Homo sapiens: one gene and its partner. The protein of the gene in region 1 interacts with the protein of each later gene in a pairwise test. Each region holds a gene or a part of one and is shown on either strand. Other genes may lie near its edges.

Region 1 (3,581 bases):
GAAGCTTGGGGACAATGAGGCTGGCCCACTCACAGAGCAGGCGACGGTGAGGCCCACATCAGAGAATTGTCACCTGAAGCCAAACCTGTCTCTCTCAGTCTGTTTCTCCATCTGTATAACAGGACTATGCTCTGAATGAACCATGTTTCCTTACTGGAGGCTGCACCAGGGTTTGGGATGAGGTTGAGATGGGTGGGAACGTCCCCACCCTATCCTAGGGCCTCACAGTCTTGGGGACAGAGGGGGCACACCCTGGCCCTCACCTCCCGTAGCTGTTGTAGCTGGCCCTCGGCCTCCACCCGCTGCAGTTCCAGGTCAGCCACCTCGCCTCGCAACGTCTGCACCTGCTCGCCCAGGGAGCTGCTCTGCTTCCGTGCCTCAGATAATGCCTGCCGGGCGGCATCCAGCCGTTCCTGGGGGACAGGGGCTGATGGTGCCTGGCTGGCCTGGGAGCCCTAAGGAGTCCTCTCTATTCTGTACCTCTGGACAGGTCCACAGAGCATAAAACAGGCAGTCATCTCACCTGGAGGGTGGGGTGCACACCAAACCCATCCACGGCCTATCCACTGACCTGCATAAGGTGGGACCCACTCAGACCCCAACTCTCCCCAATAAACCCTGCCCCTGGGTCCCCCCAAGTCTATACCAGTAGCCTTGTCTTCTTACGGGACATACCCAGAGCCTCTTCTCCTTGGCTGATGGTCTACTGGGCCCACGCCCTCCCTTCAAAGCCTGCTCTCATTGGCTCCAACTGACTGCCCCATTGGCTGGCTCTCTACCAGGGCCCCCCTCCAAGCCTGCTCTTACTGGCTGACTCTCTCACTGGGCCCACCCCAGCCAGACCCTGGGCCCGAGACCTGGAGTACTTGGCGGTCATGTTCACAGGCGGTCAGAGCCTTCTGCAGATGCAGGTTCTTGTCCCGGGTGCTGTTGAGGCTGGCACTGCTCTGGGCCAGGGCCTCTGTCAGGCCCCGCACCTTGTCCCGCAGGGCCCCCTCGCTTTCCTCCACCTTAGCCAGGGCCCCATTCAGCCGCTCCACGGTCAGCTGCAGGGTCCCTGCCTTCACCTCGCTGTCGGCCACCTGGCAGGAGGACAGCCAGAACAATCGGGGCTGTTCCCATCTGGCCTCTATACCTCTGCTCCCACTGTGACCTCCACCTGGCATGCCCAATCCACACCCTTCCCACTTCTCTCTGGGCCTCCATCATTGAGACCCAGTGTTCCTAAGCACTCCTGCTGGCTCAGCCTACTGCCACCTGGGCCCCATCCCATTGCTGGCTAACTACTAGTGCCCAGAGTGCCATCAACCTAGTTGTCTCAGACTCCCTGGTCTCCTCCCTGTCCTCACTCCTCTCTCCTCTCTGCTGTGGAAGAGAAAGGGAAACCACCACGACCCTAAAATTTTTTTATTTTTGACCTTGTTGGGTGTTCAGGCAAGGCTAGCCGTATTATTTAACATTCCAGTTAGAGCTGAGCTTCCTAGCAGTCAAGGCAAAAAGGGAAATGAGTGAAACCTACATCTCTAACTTGTCCCAGATGACTCCTATGTATGCAGATGCTGTCATCAAATAGTCCTGAATTCTAATTTTGGCTCTGCCTCTTACTAGCTATGGGATCTTAGACAATGACATCACCTCTCAGCCTCCATTTGTCCATCTGTGAAATGGGGATGTGGGTAATACTTGCCTCACAGGGTTGTTGGGGGACTGCGTAGTGCCTACAAAGCTCTTGGCACAGGGCATGTGAACACTGTGGCTGTGATTTGGGGAGGGGCCCACCTGTCTCTGCAGGGAATCCACCCGATCCTGGAGGGCCTGGGCTTGGGCCTCGCGGTCACTGAGGCCCAGGCGGCTGCGCTGCAGCTCCCCCTCAAGCGAGCGCCGCTGCAGCTCCAGCTTGACAGTGCGGCTCTCGGAGGCGTCCAGAACCTCCTTCAGGCGCCGCTTGTCGCCCTCCAGCTTTGTCTCATTGGCCTTCATCTTGCTGATCTTCTCCTGCAGGTGGCATGGGGCTCAGGCCCAGACGTCCAGTGCACCCCGCAGCCCTCCCGCACACGCCCTGGGGCCCTTAGGGGGAAAGTGGGGAGCAGCCTCGAAGGGTGACCTACGTGACCTGGGGCCGGCCTGGGACCCTCTGGGGTCCTCGGTCTCCCCATGCGTTCCCAGGATGAGTGGACGTGAAGATCCCAGAGCCCACCTTCCAGTTTTAGCCCAGGCCAATGGGCTGTGGAACCCAGGACTGCCCCTTCGCGCCCTATGGCCCCATTTCATATCTGTACAGTAGGGACACTGGATTGGTCCCAGGGTACCACAACCTGGGTGCTCACAGGAGCCCTGAGGAGGGGCTGTAGAAATGCAGATTCCAAGGCCCTTCTCCTGCCCCACTGACTCGTGCAAACTGAGCTGAGCCGGACAGTTCTGAGGGGGCCCTGCTGTTCTAGGGTTTCAGGTGGTGATTCCCCCTCCCCTGCCCAGGGTCAGCCAGTGAAAAAGGCCTGGGGAGTGGGGATGGGACAGGAAGGCAGACTAGGGGTCCTCCCATCCCTGGTACTATCCTAGAGACAGGGTGGATCAACAGGGGGTGTTATTAGAGCCTCCCCAGCCCCTATCCTGAGCCTGGCCCCTCTGCCACCCTGCCCAGAGCCCCAGCCCTGCCCTGTCTGGGGCCCCCACTCTGGCTCCTGCCCAGCTTTGTTCCTGGCCTCCTCCTGCAGCCCCTGCGGCTGGGCCCATGGCCAGGGTTGAAGCCGCAGACACAACAATCCAGCTAAGCTCGGCCCCAGGCCAGAGGCCTTGGGGGCGGGGGTGGTGGGGGGAAGCAGTAATAGAGGGACAGGCTGGGGAGGGCAGAGGGGAGCTTTGGCTGCACTGTCACCACCAGGGCCTGAGTTTCCTGCCCGACAGACGCACATACACACTGGCACACATAGCTGTCCCCCAAACACACATAAAAACCCCAGAACTACAGAGACATAAAACAGAGGCCCCCTGAGTACCACCTGTGATAAGAGCCTGTGTGTGTCACCCTGTGACGTAATCACTGCTCCTCCTTTTACAGATTAGGAAAATGAAAACCAGGCAGATGACAGCCCAAAGCCCAAGCTCTCTTTCTTTTCTTCTTCTTCTTCTTTTTTTTTTCTTTTCTTTTTTACAGGGTCTCACTCTGCCTTGCTAGAGTGCAGTGGCATGATCACAGCTCATTGCAGCCTCGACCTACCGGGCTCCAGTGATCTTCCCACCTCAGCCTCCCGAGTAGCTGGGACTACAGGCCCACACCACCATGCCCAGCTAAGTATTTTTCATAGAGACGGGGTTTCACCATGTTGCCCAGGCTGGTCTCAAACTCCTGTGCTCAAGGGATCCACCTGCCTCGACCTCCCAAAGTGCTAGGATTACAGGCATGAGCTACTGCACCTTGACCAAGCTCTTTTTTCTACAGCCTAGTGACCACAAGTGACATGAGAGGATGGAGTCTGAACATGGTTTCACAGAGTCACAGGCTGGTCACCTCAGTGGGTTGCAGAGAGACTCAGGCAGACAGACACAGGGAGACACACATAAGAGTTAGACACTCACTCGGG
Region 2 (3,814 bases), on another chromosome or scaffold:
CAGGCGTGAGCCACCATGCCCGGCCGGATTCTTTTTTTTTTTTTTTTTTTTTGAGATAGTGTCCCACTCTGTCATTCAGGCTGGAGTGCAGTGGTGCGATGTTGCCTCACTGCAATCTCCGCCTCCCGGGTTTAAGTGATTATCCTGCCTCAGCCTCCTGAGTAGCTGGGATTACAGGTGTCCACCACCACACCCAGCTAATTTTTTTATTTTTAGTAGAGACAGAGTCTCGTTATGTTGACTAGGCTGGTCTCAAACTCCTGGCCTCAAGTGATCCACCTGCCTTGGCCTCCCAAAGTGCTGAGATTACAGGCGTGAGCCACTGTGCCTGACCTTCTCTTTGACTCTTTAATATCTTCCTAAATAACTTAAATACCTTCCCCAGCACCTCCAGTGGAATATGGCCTGAACAGAACTCATTGTATTTCTCTTCATGATCCCTATTTCTCATAATGATATTACCTTCCTCTAAAGGCTTCATTTTTGGCTTCTTTCACTGTACAACCTCATTGCAATACCCTGCAAGATCCTGCTGGAATTCTGTGAACCTCTTCTCACATCTCATCATTCTGTCCTAATCATCACTATTCACTTCAGCTACTCATTTAACTCTTGCCTAATGTAATAGCCTCCCAATAGGTCTTTCCAGTCTACCCTTGAATGAATTGTTCTGCTACTCTTAACCTTTCTGGTGTTTTCCCATTGCTCACTCTAAACTCCTGAATCCTTGGCCTGGCACTGGGGGCTGCCCACGGTCCACAGTCTCTGGCCTGTGCCTGACTAAGCTCATTTCTCCCCTCCCTGTGGGATCTGCTATCCCTGGTTGGGTCTGGGGAGAGTGCTTGCAGGTTCTCTGAGAGTTTTATTTCTTTAAAAGACATCTGTATCAGAGACTGTAAGGGCTAAAACGATCAAACTCTTAGAGAAGACTTCTGTAAGTTGCTCTAGTATTAGAAACAATCCTCTAGCCAGTGTCCCAGGTAGAATAGAAAATAATTCTGTAATCGCTTACCTTCTTTCCTTTGCTCATGCTGATTCCATAACCTGAAAATAGCCTGTCCCCTGATTTTTTGTGTCTAATTCGATAATCCAGATTTTTCACTAAATTCCCCCTGATTCCTTCGGCTCCCTTAGGGTACCTTGTATTTACGTTACAATTGTCTAAGTACTTAGCGCTCCCATCTCTAGGCCAGGACTTTCTTATGGGCAATGACAAGATCTTAGTTACAAGGGACAAAAAGGAACATCACGCTTGACACATAGTAGATATGCAATGAAAATTTGAATGAATAAATGAATGAAAGAAAAAATATATTCGTGTGTTCCTTCTTACCTAGGTTTAAGTTGTTTTCGGGTAGAATCTGGGTCTGATTTATATCCTACAGTATTTAGCTTTGTGCTTTGTGCATAATAGATATTCCATAAATATTTTTTGAATTAGTGGATAGCTATGTAGTTGATCCTGATATGAACTTCCTGAATGCTACATTACTGTATTTCACTTTCAGTAACTTAAGTGTTTCTAATATAGCTAATGTATTTTAAAGTATGTTGATCTTTTCATTGTTACTAGTTTTTAACAGTGGTTATTTTTGTCTTTGAACTGGTTTGCTTTTTCTTGTTTTTTGTTTTTTGTTTTTTTTTTAATTTGAGACAGGGTCTCATTCTGTCATCCAGGCTGGAGTGCAGTGGTGCAAACACGGCTCACTGCAGCCTCAACCTCCCAGGCTCAGGTGGTCCTCCCACCTCAGCCTACTGAGTAGCCGGGACTAGAGGTGCTTGCCACCATGCCTGGCTAGTTTTTGTATTTTTTGTAGAGATAGGGTTTCACCATGTTGCCCAGGCTGGTCTCAAACTCCTGAGCTCAAACGATTCCCCCTCCTCGGCCTCCCAAAGTGCTGGGATTGCAGGTGTGAGCCCCCACGCCGGCCAGGTTGGTTTTTGGTGCATTCTTAATTTTGATTGTTAACACATTATATATCATGATGGGGGAGTGCTTTCTTAATTTCACAAAGGAAATTGGAAAGGAAAAAGAAGGGTCACTTTTAAGACAAATGTGAAGGAGTGTTATAGCTCCCATCTCTAGGTGTTGGTGGGGTTCTAGGACTAGCAATTTTTTCTGCAATAGTGGTTGAGTAATTCTTTCTAGAGTCATCATGGCTCCATCCAGGGACACATAATTTGGATGCTTTCAATGGGAAACTGAGTCAGGCAGCCCTTACTGAAATGCCAGTGGAGCGTTAGAGGACATTCCCAAACTTCAGTGAAGTTGAACTAAGTTTCTCTGCCTCCCCTCCATACCAGGATGCTAACACTTTTTTTTTTTTTTTACAATGAGGAATGCTTGCCAGACTTCCCTGTCAACCTTTAACTATAGAATATTTGATTTCAATTAGTGAATTAATGGTTCAGTCATCTCTCTATCTGAGGGCATTGGTTCCAGGACCCCCATGTATACCAAAACCTGTGAATACTCAAGGCCCACAGTTGGTGCTATAAAACCCAAGAATATGAAAAGATGGCCCTCGGTATACAGGGGCTTTGCATCCTGAGAACGCTGTATTTTTGATGTCATTTGGTCGCAGATGCAGAACCCACTCATAGAAAGGGCTGACCGTATCTATTCAAAAAATTCGTACTTAAGTGGATCCATGTGGTTCAAACCTGTGTTGTTCATGGGTCAATCGTACTTGCTTTTAGTTGTGTTACTTGGTACAAGCCTAAGTAGTAATGAAACAAAAAGAACTGACTGGAAAATGTCAGTGATGCCTTTGTGATGAGTGTGCCTTTGTGATCCACACTGCCTTAAGCTTCACTGCTGCTTTTGGTTTTGTTGCTGTTTGGGGTTTTTTGTTTTGTTCTCTTCAAATGATTTGTTGGGAAAGATGAAAGATGCCTTCGTGTGCTTCTTCTGCAGTGTCACTTTACTTCTCTGTGAAGAGGAACAATCCTAACCCATATATGTAAACTGAGCGAGTTAGTTATAGGAAGTACCTAGGTTTGTGAAGTTGCCTAAATCTTGCAATTAAGACTTACAAGTGGGTAAGTAGAGTCAGGAAAAAAGGTCAGAGGATCTAAGGAGAGAAATTTACTTCTAGGAAATACTATGAACTTATTGGAAGCAGGAAAGTTTCTCTAGTATATTTTAGAAGGATGACCCAGAGCTTGCTTAAATGTACAAAACAGAAACAAAAGACGCCCTCTTTATGAAATACAGATGCATCGTCTACAACTATTGGAGTTGTTCATTTTTTTAGAAATGAACTAAGTATTTGCCATGACATGCTCTCTGAGACAACTTTCATTCGCCTTTCACTGGGCGTTATGGGAATCCTGTAGTCTCAAGACTGGTAAATTTTTAGGCTTTTGGCCCAGTGTCAAGACTTTTGAGCAATGGTATAAATCCATTAGATATGTTGACATCTCAACTTCTTTGAAATAATTAAGATTGTTTGCATTATTTGTCTCTCTCAGAAATGAACACACCTGTGAGTACTGGATGCCTGTGAGCTTGCCATTACCTGCACTGCAAAGACACAGGGCGGTGGCCTCTGAGAAGCAGCTCCTTCCCCTTCACCTTGGCCTTGCCCTTCCTGCTCACGGTCCACCATGGAGACGCTGTCCCAGGACTCTCTGCTGGAATGTCAGATCTGTTTCAATTACTACAGCCCCCGGCGCAGGCCCAAGTTGCTGGACTGCAAGCACACCTGCTGTTCAGTGTGCCTGCAGCAGATGAGGACCAGCCAGAAGGATGTGCGGTGCCCCTGGTGCCGCGGTGTCACCAAGCTGCCTCCCGGCTTCTCCGTGTCGCAGC

The links.
Region 2: the proteins of CROCC (region 1) and RNF152 interact in a two-hybrid assay, tested with the Homo sapiens proteins (one large-scale study listed by BioGRID and IntAct).

Annotation. Positions count from the first base shown.
Region 1 is NC_000001.11:16,966,617-16,970,197, reverse strand, and holds part of CROCC (rootletin), read right to left. Parts: intron 1,996-3,581; coding exon 1,780-1,995; intron 1,083-1,779; coding exon 858-1,082; intron 414-857; coding exon 264-413; intron 1-263. UniProt on the Homo sapiens protein: Major structural component of the ciliary rootlet, a cytoskeletal-like structure in ciliated cells which originates from the basal body at the proximal end of a cilium and extends proximally toward the cell nucleus.
Region 2 is NC_000018.10:61,816,259-61,820,072, reverse strand, and holds part of RNF152 (E3 ubiquitin-protein ligase RNF152), read left to right. Parts: intron 1-3,474; 5' UTR 3,475-3,609; coding exon 3,610-3,814. UniProt on the Homo sapiens protein: E3 ubiquitin-protein ligase that acts as a negative regulator of mTORC1 signaling by mediating ubiquitination of RagA/RRAGA and RHEB.